Homo sapiens: one gene and its partners. The protein of the gene in region 4 interacts with the protein of the main gene of each other region in a biochemical or structural test. Each region holds a gene or a part of one and is shown on either strand. Other genes may lie near its edges.

Region 1 (7,021 bases), on a different chromosome or scaffold from region 4:
AAGTCTAATTCGTGGCCTCCATTTCACAGATGGGAAGACTGAGGCTCAGAGAGGCAAGTGTGTGGCTGCCTGCACTAATTGGGGGCAGAGGAGGGGGCTTTTCCTCCAGCCCTTCCCTCCCAGCTTGGGCCCAGAGTCTCTGTGGGGTGAGTTGGGGTCTGTGCTGGGCTCCCTTTGGGGAGGGCTGGAGAATGTGGCCAAGAGGAGCTCTGAGCTATTCCTGGAGAAGCCAGGGCAGCAGGGGTGGAGCTGGAAGGGGAGTGACAGGAGGAGAAGGGAGTGGAAAGAGAGGATGGAAAAGAGAAGAATGGAGTAGGGGGTGGTGGGGGAGGAGGAAGCTGCTCTGGCTGGCTTTGTCCAAGCAAGAGGAGAACAAACCCTCCTTTCTCGCCTCCTAGGCCCCTTCCCTTTTGATCCCCTCCCCTGCTGCCCCCATGCTGACTTTGGGGTTAATTTTATTTCCGAATTGAGCAGGCGCCCCTGGAGCAGGGCACCGAGCTTGGGTGTGACTAACGCCTGCCCCAGGCCGGGGCTGCCGCTGCCGCTGGGGTCACTCTAAAATATTTATCAAGAGCATGTGTGTCCTGCTGCATGCCCAGGAACACGGGCTGGGTCAGGAGGTCACCCTGGGACCCTCTGGAAATTCTCCCATGCACATGCGTGCACCCTGCTCTCAAATATACATGCAGACCCCCACGTACACATTCACACACACACACACACAGTTATACACACAGACACAGTGTATGTCTACACCCAGATGTACATCCATACACATGTACACACAGCCACACCTATGACATACTCAAACATACACTCATACACTCACCCCTATTTACACACTGCACACAGAATATGTGTCCACACACAGGTACTTCCAAACACACAATCACAGACACACTCAAGCATGTGTGCATGCCTCAATGCATGGCTATACACATGTACATACAGTCACATGTTTGCACACTCATATACATCTATACACACGCATACATATTCATTATACCTATCTACATATTGACATATGCATACCTATGCCAAACATGGAGGCACACATAAAGACACGCTCAACCATATGTACAGACTTGAATGCACATTTAAACATGTTTAAGCAGATACATATACTTACATATATGTGTGCACATGTGTGTTCACACACACAGATGTGCACATCATGTATGCACAATATGCTCATTTATGTGCACGCATGTGAAGTCATATACACATATGCTCACATGTGCCCACTGACACATACATGTATTCGCGCATATGCAAAGATGCATGCAATAACACATGGGTGCTGAAATAGAAGCATCACATGCACACACACACAAGAATTGTAACATGTCCCAACATACGTACTCACAAACACCCATACACACATGTGTACATACACATATGCAAACATGTACATGCACAGGAAGGGTTGTGAACACAGCTGGGAGGTGGAGGCCGACATAGCTGGCCCTCATTTGGCAGTGGCCCTCATTTGGCAGTGGAGGCCAACGACACGTGAAGAGGAGTGGGTTTGGGGGGGTGGGCAGGAAGCAGAGGTCAGAAAGGCTGGCCCAGGGCTGGGCTGGGGGAGAGGACACCCTCAGGGATGGGGGCCTCACCCTCTTGCCACACGCCCTTCTGATTAGTTTGACACCAGCAGGTGAGGCCTTTGCAGGGCGGTGGGGCAGGAAAGTGACCCATGACCTCTGGCTCCCTGTCCCATCTGGACCTGCCCTGCTGCTGGCCTTGCCAGGCGGTGGAGGCTGTGTCCAGGCCTGCGTTTTCCAGCCTTTGGTGTGAGGATCCACGGTCCCTGCCTCAAGGCAAGGCACAAAGGGGATAGCAGCTGGGATGGGTGCATGAGACCATTGCAGAGTTTGGAGTGGAGGAGAGAGTTGGAAACACAGCTTTCCCATGCCCTGCGGCAGAAGGGGCAGGGTCTCCCACTGAGCTGTCCAGCACAGTGGCCACCAGCAGCACATGGCTGCTGAGCACTTGAAATGTGGCTAGTGCGACTGGGAAACAGAATTTCAAATGCCGATTTCACTTGAACTAATTTAAAGTCAAAAACCAATCTTCAATTGGGTTATTTAGTAGTTGGAAAACTTACAATTTGGAACACTTTGGGTTTGTAAGTATATTTTCTCAGTTGCAAACTATATGAAATTTAAATACAGATCAAGTATTTCTGTTGAAAACTCAGTGTCCGAATTAAAATGGGCTGTAAGTGTAAAACACACACATGATGTCAAAGACATAGCATAAAGAAGAGAATGTAAAATATCTCAATAATTATATATGAATTGCATTTTGAAATGATAATCTTTTGGATGTACTGGGTTAAATAAAATGTTAGTAAAAATAATTCCATTGTTTCTTCTCCTTGATTTTTTTTTTTTTTTTTTGAGACAGAGTCTTGCTCTGTCACACAGGCTGGAGTACAGTGGCGTGATCTCGGCTCACTGCAACCTCCGCTTCCCGGGTTCAAGTGATTCTTGTGCCTCACCTACTTGAGTAGCTGGGATTACAGGTGTGCGCCACCATGCCTGGCTAATTTTTGTATTTTTAGTAGAGACAGAGTTTCACCATGTTGACCAGGCTGGTCTTGAACTCCTGGGCTCAAGTGATTCGTTTGCCTCAGCCTTCCAAAGTGCTGGGATTACAGGCATGAGCCACCACGCCTGGCCTGTTTCTTCTTATGTTTTAAAATGTGGCCACTAGAAATGTTAAGTGATATTTGTGTTGTGTATTTTATTTCTGTTGGAGCCATAGTACGGAAGCAGAGGCTTAGCCAGGAGATGTCCTGGGTTTTGCCCAACTCAGTGTCATTTTAGGTGAACTGTTCCATCTGGCTGGACTTCAATTTTTCCATCTGTGAAATGGACATTCCCCACCCTGACACCACCTTGTAGCTCTCCATAAACAAGCAGGAGGCCCTGGGGGTGGGAGAAGGAATGGGGACGGGGGACGCCCAGGGCACCAGGCACTCACTCTGGCCGTACTGGCCGTACTGATAGCCGGCCACGGGGTCCACGCTGTAGCCGGTGGTGCTGTAGGTGGGTGGGCAGTAGGCCTGGGAGGTGGGCAGGCTGTCTCCTGGCTTGATGGAGTCGGCCCGCTGGCTGCAGCTGGCTGAGATGGAGGTGGCCGAGTCCAGGCCGCCATGCAGCGGGGAGATGGAGAAGTCAGCCTGTGGCTGCGGGGGCACCGCACTGGGGTTGCCCAAGATGCTCATCACCTGTGGGGAAAAGGCCATTAGTGCCAGGCTCACCGGACAGACCCCAGAGACACGAGCACACTGGGCACAATGCCAGGCTGGCCCTGGAACACTCTTTGCCAGAGTTGTTCCCTTGAAGTCTCTGTAGCTTCGAGGTCCTCAGTTTACCTGATTTGCGTGCCCTCATGCATGGGATGGCTGCTGGTCTTCGGTGTTTCTCTTGAAGGAGGGTCCTGACCCAGGGATCCTCCTTCCACTGAGAACTCAGCAGGGCCTTACTCGCCTCTCTAGCTCCAGGGTCTGGCCCTAAGGGTCACTCTGGGCCTGTCTATTGAATGAATAAATGCATGAATGAATGCATGAATGAACGAACTGGCTAATGAGGCCTCTCCCATCAGTCAGGGAGTTCTCCAAGCTCAGAGAACTGTGCCTCCCCCATCAGACTGGGATGGCCCCATCTTCTAACACAAACATTACAGCAGGACTCTTGATCTGTCTGCTGTCACTGTGTGTGGCTTGCTCTGCCTGCCACTCCTCCGGACTCTGAGGTTCCTGCCCCTTCGACACTGAAGCCCACAGCCAATGCTTTCAAAGAGCCTCTCAGGCCCCTTCCTTTGATTCTACCAGCTCCTGAGGTCTGTGAGCATCCCCTCCTTCCCTGCCTGGCCAGGTTCCGCAAATAGGAACTCACTGTCAGTGCTGGCAACACAGACTACCAGGGGAGGCTTGTCTCTAGAAGCTCAGCTTAGGGGACCTGGATGGAGGTCCAGGTGTTCACTTACTGGGATGTTCACTTGTTTACTCCACAAACAGGCATGGATGGTGACTCTGGCCCCAGGCTGAGAGCTGAAGGCTCTGAGACTTCAGAGGAGAAAGAGCCATGGTCCCTGCCCTCGGTCGGGGGAGAGGAGGAGGAAGGGTCTGGGTCGGGTGAGGGAAGCTACTAGCAAAGATCATAGAGACATGGAGTAGTGATACAGGCATCTTATCTATCAAAGGACACAGAGGAGGGCACCCAGTCATCCTTGGCAGTCTGGGAAATCTAGGGGAGGTGGAACCTGCTGTCTAGCTCTCCAGGAAAGAGGACGGGGAGAAGCAGTGCTTTCCTGGGGTGGGACTGGGAGTGGTGCAGCAGGAGCTCCTGGAGAGTGGGAGGGCACAGTGTCCCAGTCAGTTCAGAGCAGAGCAGGGGAGAGGGCAGGAGAGAGAGGGCACAGTGTCCCAGTGAGTTCAGAGGAGGGCAGGGGAGAGGGTAGGAGGGAGAGGCAGGCCCTCGTGAACCTAACCTGCAGGGCCCAGGCCCCTGATGACCTCCTGGTGATGCCGCCCTTTATGGGAGGAAGACCCTGAGTATGAGGTGGGGACGGCTTTGCTGATAATCTGCCCAGCACCGAGACGGAGAACCACGTGGCAATCCCTGCTGGGCACACAGTTGAGTTCCCTGACTCCCCTTACAGGGTAAGAAAGCAGGCTGCGGGCATTCGAGCAGTGATCGTTTTGCCGACTAGACACCTTCTGAAGATTTTTACCTTTGCCTTTATTATTGGCTTGTGCCACAGGCATTGAGGCCTGGCCACAGTCGAGGGCACTGATGGATTCCTCGGGCTAGGGACAGACAGCGAGCTCCTCCGTTTACCAGCTGTGTAACCTCGGGAGTATCCCTGAGCAGTTAACTCATTTGACTCTCCCAACCCAAAAGCCCACAGAGATTTGTGGGGCAAAGCTAGGATGCCCATTTCCCAGATGAAAAACTGAGGCCCGCAAAGGGGCCGTGGCTTCCCTAGATCTCACAGCAGGCCCAGGGCTCAGTTCGCCTGACCCTGGCTCACCTGCAAAATGTCAAGTTCAACTCTCAAGAATGAATGAGGTTGAGGCATCTGATCACTTTAGAGGGTCTCACTCCAAGGACCAGCAGTAGTTTGTTTCCTGGGCAGCTAATGTGGGGTGAGTGGGGTGGGGTCCCTTGCTCTGGGGGAAGCTTAGGTCCTCTGGAATGTCTTGAGCAGAGCCTCTGCCTGGTTCTTTCCCCCATGCCCTCAGCCCTGGGGGTCTCCCCTCCTCCACCTTTTCCCTCTGTCACTCTCACCCCAGAACCAGAGCTCAGAGCTCAGACCAGCTGAGACCGTCAACTGGCTAGTCTTCATCTCCACACAGCTGGGGAGATTTGGGTGGGACATAGGGGTGTGTCAACCTCATCAAGATGGCAAAGACACACTGGAATGGGTTTGCAAGAAGGAGAGAGAAAGTCTGCCTGGGAGGCAGGAGGCTGGGCTGGGGAGGGTCTAGAGTCCTTTGGACACTAGCACTACTTTAGGGAGCTGAGGTCTCCCTAACTCGCTCTGTGTTGAATGTGCTTCTGAGATCTTTGTTGTGGTCGGGTCAACAGTAGGGTGCTGGGGTAGTGGTATGTGAGGGTGTCTGACACTGTGGGACTGTGTTTGTTGCTTTCTGTCTGTCAAGATGGGATCTCCTTAGCTTGAAGAATGTGCTAAGGGGCTTGGGGAGGAGAGCAAGGTCCCAGGGCAGACTCAGGAATCTGAGTCTACCCTGGGGTTCTCAGTCTAGACCTTTTCCCACCCATCTCCTTTCTCACCCAACACAAACACGGACCCTGCTCCCTGCTCAAAGGAGGCCTGGACTCCAAGAATAGACTTAGAGGCTCAGAAAAAACACTCAGGCTCCAGATCACTTCTTTCAGAAGGACAGTTGACGGGGGCTGGGAGACTACTGGGAGGGTTTGTCAGCTCCCGTGAGACTCCAGTTTGATCCTTCCCTCCTGCCCATCCCCAGGATGCCAAGCCCGGATGGGATGATGGGAGGGGAGGAGTCGGGGGATGGTTAGGAAGAGGACGAGGATGTTTTGAGACAGGCTGAGAGCTATGTGTAGTCCCACTACTCATCCTCTAAGACAGAGACCTGCACAGAACTGCTGCCCAATCTGACAGTATCACTCAAGAATTATGAATGGCTCCCCATTATCTCTCAGCAAAAGCTCCTAGTGACCAGACCTCTAGCTGCCTGTCCCAACTCCTTTCACCCCTTTCTACCCTGCACTTTACCTTCCAGCTATCCCAAACAATGTGGTATTTCTTGAAGATATCCTTCATTCATTCACGTATTCGTCCAACAAGCATTTCATAGGGTGCTACTATGTGCCAGTCTGGAGCTAGGGCTGGACTATGAGCTCTTTGAGAGCAGGATGGAACTGCATTTTGTCCGTCTCTGTAGTCCCAGTGCCTACGTGGTACTTGCTACATATTCTGAGCTCAGAAAACCTCTGCTGAATTCATGTGTATTCCTTTAACAAACATTTACTGAGCACCTATTATATGCCAGACACTAAGCCAGGCACTGGGGACACAGCCATGAAAAATGCCAATCCCATGTCCTCCTGGAGCTGTCGGCCTAAGGAACGAAGCTGACAATAAACAAGTGAACAAATAATATAATTTCTGATACTGATAAATGCTACGGAGGAAAAATAAGGGGCTATGTGGGGCAGTCAGGCAAGACCTCCCCAAAGATGTGATATCCAGCAAGACCAGAAAGAACAGCCCTGAGAAGACGAGGCAGGGGAGCTTTCCAGGCAGAGAAGTCAGCAAGTGCAAAGGCCCTGAGGTCCCTGGGGCTGAGGGGGCTGAATCACGAGATACACCCAGCAGGTTTAGGAAATAGCAAGAAGGTGAAGGCGGAGAGTAAAAATTCCAGGAGCTGCGAGGGCTTGTGCAGTCCTTTCTCAGAAGGGGCTTGGGTGGTGCCCGGTGGCTCAAGAGGCCTTGGACCCTGGGCTGTGAACTGACAGCTCAG
Region 2 (7,278 bases), on a different chromosome or scaffold from region 4:
AGCAAAAAAAAAAAAAACCAATCAAATAAAATGCTAAAGTGTATTAAAAGTTGTCATAATGCAAATTTTATTTTGATTAGTTTTTGTGACTCCTTTATCTTAAACCCAGCGATGCTTGCCACTTCCCAAGGTGTAAAAATGTGAAGATTAAGGTAAACTGAATGTCGAGGAGTGTAAAGAGATGGCAAAACACAGATAAAAACATCCAAAAAGCCTCTGGGGGCAGGTCAAGCTTATGATTCAACAGTTAGAAAACCAAAATTACTTGGACATCCCCTTCTACTTAAAGTGATATACTGGAATTGAAAATATTAACTGTTAGTTTTAGAAACTAAGATTACTTGAAGTAGGCTCATTCCAGAATGCTTTTCTTTTTTCCTTCCTGAAACAATTACATCAAACTTAGATATCCTAATGTTTATTTTTAGATATACTCCTTAAAGGCATTTATGTTCACCCTTTTCGAGGATGAGAAATTTACATTAACTAATAAACTTAACATTGATCTTAAGAACTGGTTTTTGATAAGACTAGTGTGACAGAGGTACTAGTAGAGCAAAAAAGCAGGATTCCAGATTTTATTTTTTAGAAGATTGAAAAAACACACCCAGGACAACATTTCTTTGATCAATAAACTTTCAGGAAATGGAGGAAGCTGTTTTGGGACACATTCAAAGCTAGTTAACTTGAACTTGGAAATAGGGTTTTGACAATCCAACTATGGGAAACAAATCTCTGAACAAATTTTAAATGAAACCTCACCCCCCCAAACTGTTCAAGTGGCAGACAAAATAAATTACCATAAATTATATGCCAACACACCTTTTAAAAAACAACAACAGCAACAACAAAAACCCAGGAGTCTGAGGATTTCCTTAGCTCCTCCAGGAAGTGTGTAACACTGCTTCTGGCCTGCAGGCTGGGGCGGATCAGGGACCTGTCACACGTCAGGATAGTTGCAGTAATATACCGCGGAGCTGGCGTCGGACACCACCGAGGAAATGGCCCCGTGGCTGTCGGGGAGATTCACACCGGAGTCATGCCCCTGGTAGGGGAGGCCCATCTCAGGCTTGCACACGAAGTGCAGATACTGTTCAAATTCCGTGCGGTCCACCTCCCCGAGGAGCTCGGCGGGCTGACTGGGGTCCGTGCCGTCCCGGCAGGGCAGTGCCTCCGGAGGGGGCGACGGCTGTCCGGGGCCCGGGGGGTGGTGCTGGTGCTGGTGCTGGTGCTGGTGTTGCGGCTGCATCTGGAAGCCGCGCCCGCCGCCCGCCCCGGGCGAGCCCATCGCGCCGTAGTACACGTGAAGGGCGCTGGGTGGCGCCAGGAGGCCCGGAATCGAGGGACCCGCGGGCTCTGGGCCGAGTCGGGGGTGCATGGGACCGGCGGGAGGCTCCGGGGGGCCAGCGTAGTCCGAGACCTGCGCGTAGCTGTAGGTGCCGGCCGCCGGGCAGTCCCCGGGCATCGGGGCGGCGAAGAAAGCCGGGTCGGGGTCCACGCCGTCCAGCGGGGACGTGTCGGGCGTGGGCAACGGGTAGCCGTCGAGCGGAGGCGCGCCCAGACTCTGGCAGTCGCGGTAGTGGCCGCCCATGTGCGGAGGCAGCAGCGGCGGGCCGGCGGGGAAGCCCTGCTCGGGGAACTGGAGGCCCAGGCCGTCCATGGCCACGCGGCCGCCCTCGGGGCCCAGCGCGGCCGCCTGCGGCTCAGCCAGGCCGTGCAGGAAGCCGCCCTCCACCCGCTTCAGCCGCTTCACCTGCTTGCGCCGCCGCGGCCGGTACTTGTAGTTGGGGTGGTCCTGCATGTGCTGCACGCGCAGCCGCTCTGCCTCCTCCACGAAGGGCCGCTTCTCCGCCAGCGTCAGCGCCTTCCACGACTTGCCTGCACAGTGGAAGGAAGGGGGAGAGGGGCGCAGGGCTTATCGGCTGCGCTCCCGCTCCAGGCCCCACCTGGCCCCACCTGGACGCACCTCCCCCCTCAGACTTTGAATTGCGCAACCGGGGTGAAGTTAAAGAGGGAGATCTGGGACTCCTGAGTCCGAGCCCTTGGGGAACACCCGTCCTCTAAAGGCACCCCTTTCTTTTGGTCTCCTGGAAGCGGCTTTCCGCTCACCCATCACCCGGTCGTTCGAAAAACAGAAAAGGACACCTAACTAGGGAAGGGGTCGAGGGATGGACACAACCGGCCCAGTTCAGGGCCAAGGGTGCTCTCGCGCCGCCCGGAGGTGCCGGGAAGTCGCCTTCCCAGAGCCGTTGGACCCGCGCCCCCGGCCACCTGGGGAATCCGGGAGCCGGAGAGCAAGGCGGAAAGCTGCTTTGGAGGGTCGGAGGGCGGGAAGCGGGAAGGGAACCCAGAGCCTTAAGAAAGGACGTGGCCGCTACACACCCCTGGTTTTGGGCGTCAGGCTCGCAAAGAACAGTTTGGGGTTTAAGAAATCGGCCTAGCGATTCGCGCCAGCGCGCCCGGCCGCCTGGGTCTGCGACTCGGACTCACCCAGCATCTTGCTCAACTCGGCGTTGTGCAGGTCTGGATTCTGCTGCGCCAGCCGCTTGCGCTCGTCCTTAGCCCACACCATGAAAGCGTTCATCGGCCGCCGGATACGGGACTCGCCCTTGGCTCGGCCCGCGGCCCCGGCCGGTGCTCCGCTGTTCGCCGGCGCCTCGCCCTTCACCTTCATGTCCCCGATGGGGCTCAGCGACTCGGCCCAGGGGCAGGGGCCCAGCCCGGCCATCACCGCGGGCAGCGCGCTCTGGGTCTGGCTCTGGTCGTCACTGGCGTATCCCGCATCCGGGCTGCTCATGGCGCTCCAGGCCTGCCCCGCTCCCCTCAACCCTCCGCCGGACGCGCCGCCTCCCCCGACCCGGGGGAGGGGGTGGGGAGTGAGGCACTGAGATGCCCCGAGGGCTGCGCGGGTCTCCCGGCCCGAAGCCGCCGCCCGTGTTCTGGCCTGTCGCGGTCTGGTCTACAGCGTACCCAGGGCCCCCAGCCGGCCTAGTGACACTGCGGGCGCCCCTGGGCCGCGGGGCCTTTTCTGCACAGATGTGGCCAATGGAGCGGCGAGGGCGGGCCGGTCCCGCGTCGTTAGGCCCACGCCCAGGCCGTGGTCCGAGTCCCACGTCCCAGTCCAACCCCACGCCCGCCCCTTGCCCCTCCCCCGGCCCCGCGCCCAAGGCTACACCTGCCCCCGGGAAAACTAGCCGGAGCTGGGCTCTGGCGCCGCGTCCTCTCCCACCGGGGTTAGGGAGACTCGAAAAGCCGTCTGGGAGGGCTGATTGTACCTTGGAATCGACGTACTTGCCCAAGGTCGTTTAGATGAACATACCGAGCGTCCATTCTATTCTCTTTAAAGCACATCTTTTTGCAGAAGCCGAGGGTGTTTCAGTGGTGGGTGACCTAGTTTACTTCCAAGGAACTGCATGGGCATCTTCAAATGTGTTTTCTCAAATGCGAAAGACACCGTTGATAATAAATTTAAAAATACAATTTTTCCCCCAGGACTCAACTTGCCTGTGTTATATTCAAAATGCTGTGTCCAAGATAAATCCTAATTTTCTAAAGCAAGATTAAATATGGAACGACGTTCTGTATCCAATATTCCTTCACTCTAAAGAATAAAGCATTTACTCATGACAAGCCAACCAGTTTTTATGTGTATCTTATTATACACATCATGTGAAAGTACGAAAATGTATACATGATGTATATAAGATACGCATAACAAAACTGTTTCTCGTATGTGTTCAGTAACAGGTGAGCCTTAATACTGATTTCTAAAATGTAAAGACAGCAGCAATATTTGTCTAAATGTCCGAGTTTGTTTGGGGGAAGAGAACAATCTGTTTTAGCTGCAAAGTAACTGTGGTTCTTACAGTCAGTTTAAAGCGGTTATTCTGGCAGATAATTAGATTTCTATAAGTTTCTTTAGACTGGAATGAAATCTGAATGACTATTAAACTTGTGTTTCGATCTGGAAAAAAAAAAAGTTTTCAGTGGGACTTTTAAAACAAGCCGTTATACAACACTGAGAAATGACACAGCCTGCCACTGCTATTCCTAGCGCCCTCCAGCATTAGCAAAGAAGCATATCCTCATATTAACCCTGAGGTAGACTCTATCTTACAGGAAAGGAAACGGAGGCAGAGAAGTTAAGGAACTTGCTGGAGACTACAGCGTTGAGAAGGTGGAATTCACACCCAGCAGTCCGCCTTCAGACTTGCAGCTCTTAATAATCACTAAGCCAGGCTGTTGTGTTTGTGTATTTGTGTTGGTTTTTGAGGGCAACTAACAGCCATTCCTGCATAATTAGAGATAACTTTGCAAAGAAATCAATATACGAATCTCCAGAACAGATTTTCTTTATTATGAAGGCGTGATAAAAAAGTAGAGCTTACACCTGGAATCTGAGAAGTAAAATGCTGCTGCTTTGAGTGTGATACTACAACAACAAGACCGTCTGTCCAGTCTTGCTTATTAGTGGCATCCATAAAAATACAAAACTTTTGCAAACTCCTGGCCTTCAGTTTCTCTGGCATTGCTTTTTCTCAAAAGAACTCTTACACAATTGTTTTAAGCCAACTTATCTTTAATTCTGCAAGTATCTGTGAAGCCTTGGCTAGGGGACAAGTTAAGAAAGTGTTTCTAGTTCCTGGGTCTCTAAGATTCAAACAAGAAAAAAAATTAAATCTGCATAAAGAAATCATAGAGAGGTGTTACTTCTAGTTGGTAGTTTTGAAAGCGGTTGATTTTAGACAAATTTAAATGATGATGTACTTTTAAAGCTTTATTTTTTCTGAAAAAAAAATGGGCTTCAGTATAAAGCAAAAGCACATTGCAAATGATTAAATAAGCAACAAAACTATAGGAGGAGAGAGAGCAATCTACAAATTAACCCCGTAGTACCTTGTTTTTTGCTGTTTTTTTTTTTTTTTTTTTTGAGATCTTTTCTAACTTTTCTGGATAATAATAAATATTTTTCAAAGCTCTCAAAGCAGAATTTTCTCTTAACACTAAATCTTTTATGAGCTAAGGAGTTTTCCTAGAATAAACATTGAAAATTAAAAAACAATATCTGGTCCAGAATTCATTTTTATCTGTCTAGTCTGTTTGACTAATTCCTTAAAAAACACTACAGGAAATACAATCCAGGTGTGAGTCCAAAAAATGTACATATACAGATTTAGCCCTGTACACTTTCTTCATCCTCATGCTCTTCCTCACCCAGCTCATTATTGGGAGAGGTGCGCTTGGGAGCCAAGAAGGTGGAGAAAATGATGGGGAAGAAAACGTGGGGTTTCCATATTTTATTGATTTATTTACTTATTCATTTATTGAGACAGAGTTTCCCTCTTGTTGCCCAGGCTGGAGTGCAATGGCGCGATCTCGGCTCGCTGCAACCTCCGCCTCCCCGATTCAAGCGATTCTCCTGTCTCAGCCTCCCGAGTAGCTGGGATTACAGACGCATGCCACCACGCCTAGCTAATTTTTGTATTTTTAGTAGAGACGGGGTTTCATCATATTGGTCAGGCTGGTCTCAAACTCCTGACCTCAGGTGATCCGCCCGCCTTGGTCTCCCAAAGTGCTGGGATTACCGTCGTGAGCCACCGCGCCCGGCCGGGTTTCCCTATTTTTATTTGCCCTTGTTCTTGGGGACTGATCTTGGTCTGGTAAGAGAAATCAGGTGAAAGTACACAATCATAGGTTGGAGTAGGAGCTTCAGATTTTGACGCCCCTCCCCCTACTTCTTATAACACCCTCCCTGAGATCATAAATTCACAGTTTACAAATTTACAGGGGAGGAATTGTGGTGGCTTTCCAAGACTAGTCCCTTTTACATACTGTGACCTAGTTAGATCTCATTTCTTCTGATCATTCGCTTGTCTTATATTTCGGGGGGCAGTGTGGAGGGCGGCGACGTCGCTGACCCGCGCGCGGTGTGTGGAGCCTTCTATTTCAGTCTCTTCACTTTAATACGTGGTGCCCCGGGACGTTATCAGAGCCAGCCACAGATGCCACATGTAAAGCAGCAAACATCCGGAGTGGCTTCCTGCAAGCCTTGCTTTTCTCAACACAAGAGATTTACGCAGGGGGTTGGGGGAAACAACTTTCACAAGTAAGAGCCGAGTACACCGCTCGCATAGCCGTTCGGGTGCGTTAGCACTGCACGGTCCAGGGTCGCAGGGCTCCTGGCTACTAATTGCGCTCACGTCCCCGGGTCCTTGGGCCGGACCCGAGGCTCTAAAGGCTGGGCAAGGAAGCGACTAGCGCACCAAGAAGCTGTGCCCGTTGCCAGTTGGGGCCTTTGGTCAGCGGGCGCAGAAATTAACTCGGGTAGGTGGCGAACCGTGGGGCTGACCTGGAGGAATCAGAGCCACGCTTATCCGTGGGCCCCTGAGTGACCAGGCAAAGGCTGGGTGATTTCCGGCAGGCTTTTGTGTTTTCGATGCTGGGAAAGCAGGGGCTGGAGGAAGGACACTCAAGTCGATCGGGAAGGACCCGTGGGCACCTAGGCAGATCCGGGTTGGCGCTGGAGAGCAAGTCTGTGGGGGCGGGGGAGGGGAGTGCGCGCCGCAAACCCTGGGAAAACTCCAGGCTGCCCGTGGATGACTAGACAATGGTATCCCTGAACAAAGAACAACAATAAGGCCTTTGCATTTATAAATCGTGCGCGGGCGGCTGCCTCCCGGAGGCCAGCACGAGGTGGCGCGCGGCGGTGGAGCGCGGCCGAGGGTCCCGCACCTCCCAGGTAGGGCAGCGCAGCCGGACGCCGCCGATTCGCACCTCGCGTCCCGGCGCCGTCTAGGCGGCGGTGCCGCGCCCCTTGATACCTTTAACGTCTCCTCCTTGTCCCCGGGCCAGTACCCCGTGGGTCCAGGATGGAGGTCGAAGGTCGCGGGCGGGAGGGGAGTGTAAGGGGGGAAGGAGTGGCCCGGAAAATCGCGGCCACCGGCTGTGCCGCCGCGCGCCCCCTGCCTTGGAGGCCCGCACCAGGTCGGAGCCCTGCAGATGCTGCAGTGCGGGTCCGATCCAGCCCCTGCGGTGCTCCACTGCTGCGCCGGCCTCTCCCCGTGAGGACTGAAAAAAAGGGCGACAGCGAGAGGGGATTTGGGGACGCGCGTTACCCCCGATGACCGGAGCATGCATTTTACTTGGACGCCTTCTCCCACTCCCTCCATGCGCATCCCTCCCTGGTTCCGCGGTGTCCCCTCGAGGCTGCCCCCCAACCCCTCCCTGGCAGCGGGCGACTCTTAGACCGTGTCCCCGTTCCCGCTTGGCCCCGCCTGG
Region 3 (7,128 bases), on a different chromosome or scaffold from region 4:
ACCCGTAGCCGCAGGTACTGAGCAATCCAAGCGCAGAGACTTCTAGCGGCCGAGTCGGGTCGGCCCGGACTGGCAAGCTGCAGCCCCTGCCCCGCTAGCCTCACGCGAGTTTCGGAGAAAGCGGGGACATCTGTGCCCCCCTCATTTCTCTCCCCTCCCTTTCTCGGGGGGTACCTAGAGCAAGCTCGGTGAAACCCTGGGGAAAGACCTCTGATCGCGTTGCTGGGAGAGACTGAAGCCCCTTCTTTTACCCCCTTGCCCACCCCGTTAATCTCCCTATCTCTAGCCCCACTTCTCACCCTCCCCTCCCTCCAAACCCCGACCATCAATAATTTAGGCCCCGGGAGAACTCGCGTTACCGGTATGAAAAGGCGGCAGCTGCGGGCAGATTAAAGATGAATAATTCAGCCTCCCCGGGCTCAGGGCCCGGCCCCTCAGCCCCAGTCTAAGGGGTGGGGATGGGAAGGGGACACGGCGGGAGTCCAGGGCTGGGGGACTGCAGCGAGTCGGCGCTGAGTCGGGCCTGGAATGCGCCACGGCCGCCAGCACCGACTCGGGCTGCGGTGTCTCACCCACCAGTCCACCGGCCCGCGGGCCCGCGCTGCGGCTCTCTCCCTCCGACCTCTGCTTGGCCGTGCAGAAACCTTTGGGTTTCAAAGTGGCTGCCCGCGGGCAGCCAGGACTCGGCGGACCCCCGGCGGAATCCGCAAAAAAGGAGAACGAGAGCTGTGGCAGCGGGCCGCGAGGCAGGCTGGCTGGGCGAAAACGGCGTGTGGACCCGGTTCCACTCCTCCCGAAAAGGACCGAGGCTTTCCGGCCCGCTCGCCGAGACCCGCGGAGGCCTGATGCCCTCGGCGCGGCTTTCCTGCGCTTGGAAATTACTTAGAAAAATATATTTTATCCCAGAAGTATTTTTAAACGCCCCCCCCAACCCCCGCAACGCTAAATATATGATTAGCGAAAAACACAGCTCTCCCTCCTCGGCTCTCTTGTCCTAAACACAGGTCCAAGCCGGGTCTAAAGTTTCCTTGTGAAAAGTTACAAATTATCCTTAATTATTAATCTGCAGATAGGGAGGAGTTTTCTATTTAGAATTTTAGCTTTTAAAAAAAAAAGCCTGCAAAAAAAATCTCAGAATAGTTTTTCAAGCTAAAGACATGGCATAAATTCAAATTTTATTAAAATAATTCCCTCTTTTCTCTATTTTTTTCTCCCTTCTCCCTTTTCTTCTGTAACATCATGTCAACTTTCTTTCTTTAATTTCCTTTCCCGTGTTTGGATTTCTCTTTTCCTTTCTCCTCAGCTTTGGCATTTGCTTTCCTTTTGTTCTTTCCCCCTCATTTTTTGCTCTTTGCTGACCCCCTGGCCAGGTTGCTGGCTGCGTGATCCTCAATGGGGAGTCGGCAGTCTAGGCAAGGAGCCTCCAGAGCTGAGAGCAGAGCTGCACTCTGCCGGGGGCCCACCTGGAAGGCTGCGCTGCTGGCTCTCTCCCTGACTTCGATTTCTTCTCGGAGCCCCTCTTTGTTTTTAGAGCATCCCCCAGGCAGAGGCAGGGAAAGATGACCATCGTGTCTTGACAACCTGGGATTCCCAATGTGAAGGGAAGGGAAGGCAAGGGAAGGGGGGTGGGAAAGAAAGGAAGAGGAAGAAAATATTTCAAACCAACCCACAAGAAGCCTATGCTGGGCTGGAAGGGCCTGGAGATGCTGAGAGATGAGGGTCAGAAGGGGGCACCCCACCCCCACACTCTTCTGCCCAATTGTCCTGACACTGAGGCTGAATACTCTTGGAGTCTCCTGGACCCCACGACTCTTAAGTTTGAGAAAGATAAAGATGTGGGGAGACAGGAGAGGGAGGCAAACAGAGGAAGAGAGAAAGAGAGAAAAGACAGAGAAAACAACAAAACAACACCCTGAAAACTGCCTGCTAATTTGCCCCCCAGCCCAGGGCAAGAGGCTGACTAGGGAGAGGGTGGCTGGAACCAGGGCTCCGAGGCCGTGGATCCCATGACCTAAGAAGGAGCGGATAGAAAGAGCAAAGGCAGGTGATAGGGATCAGGGAAGGTAGGAAGGCAGGCAGACAGAGAGGTAAGAATGGGTGACAGAAGGCAGGAGAGAAACTGGAGGCATTAGAAACACCGGGCGAGGGAGAGAAAGAACGAAAAGAGGGACCAGAAGCCAGGGAGGCCTCCAAGATGGGACCTGAGCGCGAGGGGCCGGGGCCACGCTGGGACTGGACAGGGTTGGGACGGAGAGCCCCGAGCCGGGACAGGAGCCGGGCGCCGGTACTCACGGTGCATCGCGGAGAAGGGGTCTGCTTTGCAGTGCATATCCATGGGGAGGCAGAGGAGCGGGAGCAGCGCGGCCGCCGCCGCCGTGTCGCCTCTCAAACTCAACTTCAGGACTTGAGGAGAAAAGGGAGGGACGGTGGGGGAGGGAGGATGAGTGAACGCCCGGCTGCTGCGGGGCGCGCGGGGGCGGGGGGCGCAGCACTGCGCTCCCCGCTGGGGCTCCTCCGGGTTGGCCGGAGCTTGCAACTGCAGTAGCCGCAACTTGCCACTGTCGGGGCTCGGGGCTGGGCGGTCAGCAGAATGGCCCCGGGGCGGTGGGCCGGGCCGGGGTGCACTGGGGGCGCATGGCTCGCGCTGCAGCTGCAGCCAGGGCTGAAGCTGGGCGGGGGAGGCGACTCGCTCAGCTCCCCTGGAACCTGGTCATCCGAGAGGCGGTGGTCGGAGAGCGCGCGGGGCGGGGGCGGTCAGAGGGCGCCGGGAGGGGAGCCGGGCCTCTCCAAGTGCTGGCGAGTTGGCGAAGTTGGCAGAGAAGTAGCAATCCCGGGGATGTCCGAGGTGGCGCCTGCGGGAGGGGAGCGCGCGGGCCAGGCCCCCGCCCCCGGAAAAGGCAGGCGCACGCCGCCGCGGCCGAAGGGCCGGGAGGGAGGGAGGGAGCCGAGCGGCGCTGGCAGCTCTGGGCTGGCCCCAGGTGGGTTGCGGCTGCGAGAAGACTCGGCCGGAGACTGGAGCCTCGGCTCCCGGTGTGTGTCTCTCTAAAAGCTGCAAAGCCCCCTCCAGACCTCCTCCCCCTCCCCGCGCCGGGAGATGGATGACTTGTCAGACAAAGGCAATAGATTCCACCACTCTGTGATTCGCCAGCGCTGGAGCCCCGAGCTTCGGCGAGGAGGGCCCCGAGCCTGTCACTCCGGTGCCGGCTAGGGGAGGGCAGGGGAGGGAGAAATGGGAGGGAGGGAGGGAGGGAGCAGCCGGCGAAGGAAGAGGGAGGGAGGGGAGCGGACCGGGGGAGGGGGAATGGGAGCCCGGGATTAAAACTACACTGAGAAACGAAACTCGCCGATAAGATAAACGCTAGATAAGGATAAAGAGCGGTCAGTCTAATGAATATTCAGGTAACGACAGAGGGCCTCGGAGCGCGCTGCGCTGTGAAGCCGGGCTCTCAGTTCTAACTCGCCCAGCCCTGCCATCCACTGGCCAGTGCCCGCCTGGGCCGCGCGGCCCCGGGCCCAGTGCGCATCCCTAGCCCCAACCCCACCACCCTCGGCTCTGAGTTCCCTTCCGTTCCTTCCCGGCTCTTCCTTCCTCTCTTTCTGGTCCTTCCCTTTGGCCTTTCCCTCCGGAGGTACCTTCCCACCCACGCACCCCCCACTTCTCATTCCACGGAAAAGTGTCCAGCAGTTTGTCTTGTCCCCTCCCGTTCCACGCGACTGTGCGCAGGGCCTCCCCAGTCCCCTTGCCCACCGGGTCTGGGCAGTCCAGAACGCTTGGTTCAGAATCGAGCTGAAGACCTCCGGCGAGTACCCACCTGCCTCGGTGGGACCCAGCGGATGGCGGGAGAGCCGGGGGACTTGGTTTCTGAACCCTCGGGTGACTGGGAAGGGGGTACAGGGGAGGGAAACAGTGCGGAGCTGCAGGTCGCTGGCGGCAGAGGATGTGGGAGACGAGGCTGGCTCTCCCCGGCTGGGGAGAAGAGGAGGCTGCGGACGCGGCTGAGCGCCGCCCGCTGCTAGCTCGGTGGATCCGGGGCGAGCGCAGGAGGCGCAACCACGGGGACGTCCCCACTCCTGCCGGAGCCTCCGCAGCTCTCTCTGGCACTAGCTCCCTTGCTCGCTGGGGTCCGCTCGCACGCACCAGGCAGAAGAAGCCCTTTGTCTCCTAACTGGTTAAGTACAGAATATCCGGGAGATCTTCATGAAATATTTTCCCTCGTCTCATAAATCATCTTGGCACTTCAGCTGATGTTTTAACTCTCTCTCCCTCCTTCGCTCCCTCCCCCCGCTTCCCTGGGTCTGCGAAAGGGCGGCTCGGCGAAGCTTGCGCAGCGCTCTTGCAGCCCGAATCCGAGATTCCTCCAGCCCCCGTCTGCAGCTCCGGGCGCCCCGCGGAAGCGCGGCGGACTCGCGCTCCCCTCCCTCTGGCCGGAGCCTGGGCGGCAGATACCATGGGGAGAGATGCACCTGCCTGACTCAGCCTAACTACTACTACTGGGCGTCTTGTACCCGGGTTTTTGGGATGCCCTTATTCCTCAGGAGGAGCTCAGGCCAGGCTCAGCGGGACGAGGTTCTGAGCCTCTCACTCCTGTGGGGCCTGGGTCCGCTGGGATCCTGGCATTTGCCCTCCCTCCTGTATCCTCCAGAGCCCAATAAGCTTAATCCACCTGCGGGGTAAAGTCTGGGAGGAAAACACTCCTCACCGCCTGCCCCTCCCAGCCCCTATCCCACTTCCCTTGGGTGGCTAGGCAGGTTGGTTCCCTTGGGCTAGAGGTTGAAGACGCAGGGCCTAGCCTCTAAGGTCAGTCTCTTCCTCTTGAGGCCTGCAGATGGCGCTCCCGGGTTTGCTTTGGCCTCACAACCCCACGAACACGCACTAACTTCGTGTAGGGACCGAAGAAGGAAAACAGTTCGGGCAGCCGAAAAGTAACAGCTCCCAGGCCAGAGTGCAAGGGATCTCAGGTGGTATTAGCTAGCACAGCCTTGGCTTTCCCCTCTGGGAAGTAATTAACCCAGAACTGGGGTGAAAGGAACGTTGAGAAAGGGTCCTTATTTAGAGGAGCTCAGAACTAAAGTAACCTTTGCCCCAGGTCTCTCCAAGTTGGTCATCCAGGAATTTGTCTCGGGGTGTGTGAACTATTGAAGGAAGAAAGCTGTGAGTAAACCCCCCCCCTTCCACACAGACACAGATTTTTCTAGAACCAGCTAGACATGTCCCTATGTTACAAGTACCATGAAATGTGGGTGCCCACAACAAGCATTTTCACATGTTGGGCGAGAAGGATTTTCCATTTTGTAGAGAAGGGGACTTAATGCGCCAAGTGTGCTGGAAGTTGTCCTCACACACCTGTCCTTCACATGCACCTTCTGAGGAGTAAAGACCCTTCTGATAGTCCCATTCCCAGGTAGCCCCTGAGAGTCCCCCCTGCTCCTGGGATCGTCTCCCCAGCACTGCACTAGCTGGACACTCACTCTTCCGCCAGGCCGGCTCCTGGCCGCTTCCCCATTAGCTCCAGCCCATTCCTGGGTCTAGAGAGTCAAAGAGTAATGCTCCCTGGAGATTAGGAACCCCTTTTCTCCAAAGCTCTGCCTTCTCCTGGGGCTCCAGGATGAAGGGCTGGCCTTCATCCAGTCACTGGCCGCTCCTCTGACTCCCCCTTTTCTGTTCTCTTTCTTCTATACAGTCTAGTAGAGGGGTGGGGGGAAGCAAGAAAGCAAAAAAAAAAAAAAAAAAAAAAAAAAAAAAAAAAAAAAAGGAAGAAAGAAGAGGAAAGGGGAAAAGAAAGAGAAAGAAAGAAAACAACCCAACCCCAAACACTACCCGGGCTCCGACCTGTCAGGGTTGGTTGCTTTTCCCGTCCGCCTCTAAATGAACCTTTTCTCTCTGGTGTTTTCAAAGCGGCCCTTCCACCCCCCAACCTAGGGGCATTTACACTTCAAACAAGGAGCCCGCCTCCCTGCGGAAATTTAAAGGCAAATAAACTTTTGGGGAGTTGCTCTGATACCCATCTCGGGATTTGCTTCATTAGCCGCCTCTGTGCATCTGATCTGCCCAATAAATCTTCCTTGTGGATCTCGGCTCCTTTGCCTTCTCGGCTCCCTTCCCTGCCAGGCTTGCCCAGGCGCCTGGCGGCCCCCAACCTTGCCTCCGCCCTCCAGGCCGAGCTACTGCCGGCCTGGTTTTCTGGCTGGGCCGCGCCTGCTCTGTCTGGGTGTAGGTGTCGGGGTGGCGGATAGGCACCCCGCACCTCGAGTGTACCCACGCACCGGCGCCCCAAGCCAAGCCAAGCGCGACTCCAGGGCTCTCAAATGCGTTTCTGGGCATGTTGTGCAAAAGTGAAGTGCCGGTGTAGACCTAGTCCACTGCCCGCTGCCCCGCTGCCACCCGCTCCCGCTGCCTTCCAGAAACCCTTTCTCCTGTTTTCCGGTTTCCAGTTCCCTGGCCCAGCGTTTTCTGCCCAGGCGAGAAAAGGCAGAAGCGTGGTTGCCTCTCCTCCTCCTGCAGGGCCCTGACCCGGGGCCCAGGCGCCCGGCCTCCAGTAGCTTGGGAAGGCGGCTGAGCCTTGGTGAGACGGAGGGGGCCGCGGGAGCATCCCAGCCGCGCCCCTCCCCCGTGGCCGGGACCTGCCTTCCTCCTTCCACTTCCCGGGGAGCGGCTAGGGGAGCTAGGACCGGGGTCTGAGGGAGGGGATTAGAAATTCCGAAATTAAATGCATCTCCCCAGGAAATGCTCCCCACAGCGCGGACCAAATTAAATGCATTAAAGTTCAGAGGGGAAAAAGCTGTTTAGAACCAAGGGGAGAAAAGTAGTCCGAAGGGAAGAGAAGCAGAAAGGGAGGGGAGAGAGGGAGAACAGAGCTGCAGCTCCGCAGCTGAGCTTCATTTCTGGATTATTCCCACTTTTAGAAGTCACCACCAAAAAGAAAAATAAAAGTTCTTCTGACAACCGAACTCCAGAGCCGACCAACCGAGGCTCACTCGCCCTCTGGGTCCCGGCGCACCCCAGGGCGCATACCCTCGGCTGTCAGATCCCAGGGAGCCGAAACTTACACCCCAGCCCCTTCCGCAGAAAGGCCTGACCGGCTCCTGCCCGGCCTTTCCCCCTCCTCCTCCCCATTCTCTCCCCGCCCT
Region 4 (7,243 bases):
GGCACCGGTCCCGAAGAGGGCCTGCGGCCATTGTGTCCCAAGCGCAGGTGTCAAACGCCGGCCGCGGCGCCCGCAGGGTCCGTCCCGCACGCTCCTTCTCAAACAATGACTTTGCTGCCCACGAGCAGAGAAGCCTGGACTCCAGCGCAGTCCGCAGCGCGTTCGTTAAGGAGCCCAACTTCGGCTTCTTAGAATGCAGCCCACTTTCTAGACGCCCCCGGCGCACCTGCCTCGAGGCCGCGAGAAAGGCCAGCTCCGGCCGGGAGCCGGGGACCGGGAAGCGCGCAGTCCCGACCTTCCTCCCCTGCCTTTCTCTTCCAGGAGGTTTACTAGAACTCCGGGAACTCCAAAACGCGACTTTTCTTTCTCTTTGCTTTTCGTCTTAAGGGAACACGGTGGGCAAAAGAAGGGAGTGCGTGTGCCCGAGGCTTGGGAGCCCCCTGTGCAGTGACCTAGGAACCGCTAGCGATTTCTTGAAAAATTACTTTAATCAAGTCCGGCGCTCCCGGGAGCGGGGGAGGAAAGGCAGCACCCGCTCGGGACGGGAGAAAAAAGCCTCCAGGTCTGTCCCGCGTCTCCAACTCGGCGAGGGTCTCCGGCTCCCCAGTCCCTCTCCCTGCCCTGCTGGGGCCTGGGGCTTTGGGGAGGGAAGAGCGGGGCTGGGGTCTAAGGACCCTGGGCCGGGCCTGGCTCTCCGCCGGCCGGGCCTGCGGGTGTCGGCGACCCGGGGGCTCCGCGGGCGGCTCGGGCGCTCACAGAGCCCGCGTCCCGCGCCAGAGCGGTGAGGCCGCAGGGCCGCACGGGGCGCCTGGCTGGGTGCGCGCTGGGAGCGGCGAGCAGCCCCGCGCCCGCGTTTTGATCTCCTTCCCCCCTCTAAGCCGCGTTTACAACTTCACCAATGAATAACCCGCCTCTCTTTTCAACCTAATCACGGCTCTTTGTGTATCTTTCTGTTGATGATTTATAGAAATAAATTAATAACACCCCAACTCCACGTGCTGCAGTTTATGTTACGTCTCAGCTGCGGCCAGCCCGGCGCGGGGCTGGGTGCGGAGGGGCGCCCCAGGTCCTTCCAGCGCCGCGCTAGAAAGCGGGCGCCTGCGGCCGAGTGGGAGGGCCTAGGCCCTGTGGCCCCCGGTGGCCGGCGGTGGGAGCCTGGTTCATCCGCCAGGTCCTGAGCGACCTCCCCGGCAGCCCTGGCGCCCCAGCCGCTCCTAGGGGCCACTCTCTCGACCCCTCTTAGCCTCCGCGACTCACACCTTCCGCCTCGCGGAACTCTCTTGCAGGAGTTCTCTCCCGGTAGGGGAGAAATCACCTCCGGGCGGGAGAGCGACGAGGGAAGAACCTCAAACCTATGAATTATACCAAAGTGTGTTTGGGGAAAAAAAATCTACAAGTTCCCCTGATTGTTTTGGCTAGAGGGCAAACCGCCAGGCCCTCGGAGCACAAATTCAAATGCAAGGTCATATCCCACCCCAAACCGCCGCTGCGGACGTGCGGCCAAGGCTCAGCCCCGAAATCGCAGCGCTTCAGTGTCCGAAGCCACGCGATGGGCTCTGTCCTAAAGCGGAGTGGCCCGGGAGCGACGTGCTGTCTCAGGGAACCGCTCGGCTCCTTAGATAATTAGTAACCAGCTGTCAAAGTCTAGGGCGGTCGGGGAGGACCCACAAACGATCCCGGCCCTGGGGATACACTGCCAGCCGGCCTGAACTCCCGGGGAGAGGCCGGGGGTGGGCAGCGAGGTCTGGAAACGCCCTCCTTTCTCAGACTGAGACCAGATCCTCTGCGAACTGAGGTCTGAGACGCGTTCGCCCCCACACCACCGCGCTTGGTTTCTTTGGCCCCGCGCGTGTCCACCCGGACCCTGCATGGAACATGCCCTTTGCAAATCTAAACCCGCGTTGGGGATCCCGGATAATTCCGGGCCTTGCATGGGCGCGGCTAACAAGAGTGCCCACCAGGGAACTCGCCTCCCAGATCCCGGCTCCGGATGCCGCCTGTCCTTCGGCAAAGAACTGCAGGTCATCATGCAGGTCAATGTGTCCGAGGCCGACATGCGGCTTTCCAGACCCGAGGCAGGGCGCAGGAAAAATGCGCGGCCTGGGGCTTGCAGCGGCGCGAGGCTCTGCTCCCGGGAAGTCGCAGCGGTTTCACTGCACCCACTCGCACCTTCAGTCGCGTGGGCAAACCTCCCGGCAAAGGGCTCCACAGCTCCAGTTCTCCCCGGCCCAGCCCCAGCCCCGCGGGGAAAAGCCCTTGGGTCTCGGACGCTGGCCTGGGCCTGGGGAGAAGAAGCCCGGTGGGCCGCAGGGTCGTCCCGCTAAGGGATTGGGAAGGGTCCGGGTGTTGGGAGAGAAGCAGAGCGCCCCCCGGGGGACTTCTCTGGTGGGAAACGGGCTTGGCGAGTGTGGTCGGGCGCAGTGTCACTCAGGCCCGGGGCCGGGGCTCCAGGGGTTCGGGTGGGTCCCCTCCACCTCGCTCTGCGCCTACCTGAGCATCCGGTCCACCTCCGCCCGCTGCTCCGCCGCCTCCTCGGTGTTGAGCGCCTGCAGCTCCTTGAGGATGGGAGGTGTGTCATAGTCGTCGCCGTCCTCGGAGCCCTCGTCGCCGGACAAGCGGCCCTTGGCGTGGCCGTTGGTGAGAGTATGGAAGACCGGCTTGGTGTCGGGCTCGGCCCCGCTGCCAGGGGACAGGGGCAGCGTCTCCAGCTTCACCCCGAAGTTCGGGGATGGCAGCAACTCCTCCAAGGCCTGAACCAGCACCTCCTTGGTGACCCCGGAGCTCAGCAGGGCGCTCAGGAGTTCTTGCTGGAGCGACGTGAGCTTGGACACCATTTTCCAAGGACGGAAAAAGAAGGGGGTGAGGGGGTGGGTGGGTGCGAGAGAGGAGGGTGGAGGGGAGTTTCACAAGCAAACCCCAAATCCAGGAACCCCTCCACCCTTCAGCCTCCAGACACCTGTTACTCCCCGGGGTCCCGGAGGCTCCTCCGAAAGGAGTCAGAAAACTTCTAACTTGCCATGATCGCCACCATTAGGCCATATAAGATATGCAAATTAGTGGGAAGGGCCCAGCTTTCGGCTGGATGCAAATGATGGTGGGGAGGGGGAAACCCGGAGAGAGGGAGAGCCGGAGGGGCAGACCTGGAGAGCAGAAGACCTGGGCCGGGAGCGGGGCTTTGCCAGGGTCCATTGTACTCACGCTGGGGGGCTAGAGACCTTCTTTTACTGGTTCTGCTTATCAGCCAAACTTCACCTAACCTTTGGACTTGTTAAGCCAGTGCCTTGCAGCCTAGGCGCGGGGCTTTTCCACCGGTTCTCAGTTCCGCTTTAGTCCAGAGAGAAGACACTACGCTTCGGGGTTCAGGTGAGAGCCAGAGGAAGCTGGGGTGCTCGTGGAAGAAGGGGACGCAGGAGGAAGCGAAGAGTAGAGACCCTGGATGCGTCCCGGCCGACGCAGGTGGTGGGCCAGGAGAGCCCGCAGGGCGGAAGAGAAACTGACCACTTAGGAAGGGGCGCCGAGGCCACGGGGGAGGTGAGGCAGCGTTAGGTGTGGTGAGCATGCCCTGGAGGGACTCCATTTATTTCTACCTCGGTTACTACCTCCAGGCCCCAGAACCTCCCTGGCCTGGTCTGGCGGTTTGGGTTTGCAGAACTGCCCGCCAGAGAGCGTAGGCGAGGGTGAAGGAGTCCGGGAGAACTCTTGGAAAGAGACTACTTTATGGGTAGAGGGAGTAGCCAAAGTGAAGCTCCCCCAGCAGCTGGGCTGCACCGGCGCCCAGCCTGGCCACGCCACTGGGGAGCTGGACCCCTGGGGCTCCTCACTCTCCTGTTTAAACCCGGATGTCAAGGCGCCTCCGCCTTGGGGGAGGATGGTGAGGCAGAATGGTGAGGCACTAGGATGGTGAGGCACTAGGATGGTGAGGCACTAGGATGGTGAGGCAGTGAAAGCAAAGCTTGACCTGCAGCTGGGTGGACACTTGCAGCCGAGGGTCCCCCCGGCCCACTCATTTCTGGTTTATTCGTAGTTCCAGAACATCTGTGGTTCCCTGGGCCGGGGACGAGCTCTGTAGACGAGGTCACTGCAGCAGTGGCAGAAGTCTTGCACTCCTAGTACAGAAGGTGTCGACAGAGCTACTGAGGGAAAGATGTTTTTTTTCCCACTCTGGCCTGGGCCAGGTAGGAAGCCATAGGCCTTGCAGCACTATTGGAGTTTCACCTGCTTCCCCCCTGGTGACGGGCAGGAGGGGAGGGCGGCGGAAGCGCGCCCAAACCGGCAAGCTAGGACCTGACCTGTAGAAGAACAGGGAAAGGGGCTTCTTTGCTTCCACCACACACAGACCTAAAGCTTCTGGGGAGGAGCATAACGCTTCCCTTCTGGGAGCCTCAGTTTCCTCATCTGCAAAAAGAGGATACCACTGATAACCTTTTTTTGGGGGTTGTGTATATTGACTGAGGCCACTTGTGCAACCGCTTGGTCTAATAATAAAGTTCAACACTTTCTGGTCTGAGAAGACGGGAAGCCAGTTCCCAGTAGTAAAACTGAGTTACTCTGGAAACTTAGGGTATTCAGAATTGGTGATACAGTGCTGGGGTTGGAGGGATTGGGGGACTAGGGTTTCAGAATCAGCAGAAAAATTGCAAAGGAGTTTCTAAGCACATTTTCCTTCCTCTCCCACCCTTGAAAGATATCTAGGAGGAAGTAAGGTTAGGTTAGGGATAGAGAGGAATTTCAGCAGGAGGAGGAAGAGTCTAGCAGCTCTCATCTGCCTAGGGGCAGGATCTAATCTCCTAGGTGTGCAAGGGCTGATGGTGTAATTTATCAAGTCAGGCTGTTAAGGAGCTAGGATGCCTCTTAAATACAGGGTCTGCTACAGGTGCCTGGGCCACTTGTGCTGAGAGCCAGAAGGAAGCGGGATGGTTGTGTGCGTGTAGCCTGAGGAAAGTTTACACTGATCTCAGTCCCTCTTTCCCGGAGACAAGCAAATCCCAAATTCAGGAACCTCTCCATCCTTCAGCCTCCAGACACCCATTACTCCTCAGGGTGCCACAGGGAGTCATAACTTCATGAAAATGTTGGCTTTTCATTTCACCTTCTTTCCCTCTAGTTTGTTGTAATAGGTGCAAATCTTTGCTTCTCATAATTCTGCCCAATGGAAGAACATTCTCTGCCTACCCAGCTTGCCTCAAGAAGGATAATGAAGTGTTCAGAGTAAATGTCCCTGAAGAACAATCTCTTCGTCTGTCTCTCACTCGCTATCAGGATAGAAGCATCAAGTGTAATGAAGATCAGTTTCTGTGTTAAGCTGGGAAAACCCATTTAAAAAACAGCAATCACTTCTGTTGTAACAACAAAACTTTGATTGGCAGTTGCAGCTGCTGTGTGCCCCATCTGATTCCCAAGCCTCATTCTCTCTCAAAATTCAGGTGTCAGCAAACCCATTCTTCCCCACACCCCAGCTAACTATGTGAATGTGCAGGCAATTTCACACAGAGGATAGGACAAACTTCCTATGAGTGTCCAGGTATGTTTTCCAGGTAATCTGGCTATTCATATCTAGCAACTTCCTGTAATGCTCCTTCCTAGTCCTACCTTGTAATATGCCACTTTGTGCAATATAAGCGCTTATCAAGTAATTGTTCTGTACTATAGATCTTCAAACAGATTCACCAGTCCCTTCATATGGAAGTTTAAAAAGAGCTGTGTAAAGTAGACCAGCAGATAGTCTTTCAGAATGCAGTTCATAATGTTAAGTGAGCTATCTTGTAAAACTCTTCAGTTAAACTTCCCCCAAATAGAGGAAGACGGAGTAGGATTGAAATAACATCTGTTTATGCTTCACACAGAATAAAGTCGTGATGGACTGATATAATAACTCCATTTTAAAGATGGAAAAATAAGATATGGGAGAGTCTCAGGTTGCTTGTAGCCACCTCAGCAAATTAATGGAAGGGTTGAGGTTGGGGCTCAGAACTTTTGAGCAGGGTTTTAGGATGAAAGAGGAGGGTCTCTAGCTGTCATTGTTTTGAGGGATGAGAAGTTGAAAGAGGGATTCTGTGGGGGAGAGGTGGAGGATACCCAGCAGAGAATAGAGGGCAGGGTTTGGAGTAGTCAAACAGAACTAAACTTGAACCCAAGATCTGCTTCACCTGCTGTGTGACTTTTGGCATGTTACATAATCTTTCTGATCCTCAGTTTCCTCAGTGCAAAATGATAATGACACTCTACTGTGCCGGTGTGAAGATTAGGTGAGTTAGTAACCACAGGTTCCTAGAATATGGTGGGCTCTCACGTATTTAGAAAGAAGAGGCACATCTTGATAACATGCTGAGAACTGAGGCAACTGATGTCTTTAGGCTCTTATAGTCCCAGCATGTTTTTAAGAGCTACTGAATTTGAAGAGACCATATCAGTTTCATCTGCTCAAATTAGATGAATTTGCAGTTCATATCCCAAGGTTTGTTGTTCTTGTTTTTTATAGGACGTGCAATCCCTGGTATAAAATAAGTTGAAATCCAGTTGACTCATCATTCTATGAAGGTGTTCTGAGCACCATGCTGGTCATTCCACAGATTGGCAAATGTGGCTTCTGTGAACTCATCTCCCCTGGAACTTAGCAGCACAAGCGATATTTCTTTTCTGATTTGTGCATGCAATCTTTCCCCTACTTTTCACGGTTGCACTTCTTTGTTTACAGAAGAGATTCTGGTCATTTCCACCCCTGCCACTCCACTCTCCCAGCCTCTCTCATTGGTTCACAGAGTATCTAGAAGGCCTCAAAATAAAATCATCTCTAGAGTAAAACATAAATACCATCCTAACCTGTTCTGCAGGAGGTCAGGGGCCTTCTTGTTAGAGAGCAGTGTTGCAACCTGGAGAACATTCTAGACATCAGGGTCTGGAAAGAGCCTGAGGTTCTTCTTCTGGCTACAAAACCTCTTTCTGGGTGATTCATCTCCCCAAAAGTTTTGGTGAGCACCTTCTCTGGGTCTCTGATTCTACCTTTGAAAAATGGCTATTGGTCTGGATAACCATTTAGGTCCTCCAACTTTTTTTTATAATTTGAAATTCCTAAAAGGTCTTAAATTATTAGGGTGTCTACTTGCAGGCCTTCGGGCAGATGGGCCAAGAGCTCAGGCCAGACCTCTGTGTAGTAGTGGACATGAAGCCTTGACTAGCCACGAAAAAATATACCACAGAGAGCAAACCCTATGAGGGGCAGGCATCTTCTCATGTCTTACTCCTC

Evidence for each region.
Region 1: the proteins of HNF1B (region 4) and PAX7 form a complex in vitro, tested with the Homo sapiens proteins (one study listed by BioGRID).
Region 2: the proteins of HNF1B (region 4) and SOX17 form a complex in vitro, tested with the Homo sapiens proteins (one study listed by BioGRID).
Region 3: the proteins of HNF1B (region 4) and PAX2 form a complex in vitro, tested with the Homo sapiens proteins (one study listed by BioGRID).

What each region holds. Positions count from the first base shown.
Region 1 is NC_000001.11:18,731,846-18,738,866, reverse strand, and holds part of PAX7 (paired box protein Pax-7), read right to left. Parts: intron 3,236-7,021; coding exon 2,989-3,235; coding exon of another isoform or gene 2,828-2,988; exon of another isoform or gene 2,729-2,827; intron 1-2,728. UniProt on the Homo sapiens protein: Transcription factor that is involved in the regulation of muscle stem cells proliferation, playing a role in myogenesis and muscle regeneration.
Region 2 is NC_000008.11:54,453,658-54,460,935, reverse strand, and holds SOX17 (transcription factor SOX-17), read right to left. Parts: upstream 3,002-7,278; 5' UTR 2,798-3,001; coding exon 2,491-2,797; intron 1,879-2,490; coding exon 941-1,878; 3' UTR 44-940; downstream 1-43. UniProt on the Homo sapiens protein: Acts as a transcription regulator that binds target promoter DNA and bends the DNA. Binds to the sequences 5'-AACAAT-'3 or 5'-AACAAAG-3'. Modulates transcriptional regulation via WNT3A. Inhibits Wnt signaling. Promotes degradation of activated CTNNB1.
Region 3 is NC_000010.11:100,741,468-100,748,595, reverse strand, and holds the start of PAX2 (paired box protein Pax-2), read right to left. Parts: upstream 3,015-7,128; 5' UTR 2,404-3,014; coding exon of another isoform or gene 2,336-2,403; coding exon 2,293-2,335; intron 1,582-2,292; coding exon of another isoform or gene 1,409-1,581; exon of another isoform or gene 1,159-1,408; intron 1-1,158. UniProt on the Homo sapiens protein: Transcription factor that may have a role in kidney cell differentiation. Has a critical role in the development of the urogenital tract, the eyes, and the CNS.
Region 4 is NC_000017.11:37,742,051-37,749,293, forward strand, and holds the start of HNF1B (hepatocyte nuclear factor 1-beta), read right to left. Parts: upstream 3,010-7,243; 5' UTR 2,835-3,009; coding exon 2,491-2,834; intron 1-2,490. UniProt on the Homo sapiens protein: Transcription factor that binds to the inverted palindrome 5'-GTTAATNATTAAC-3'. Binds to the FPC element in the cAMP regulatory unit of the PLAU gene. Transcriptional activity is increased by coactivator PCBD1.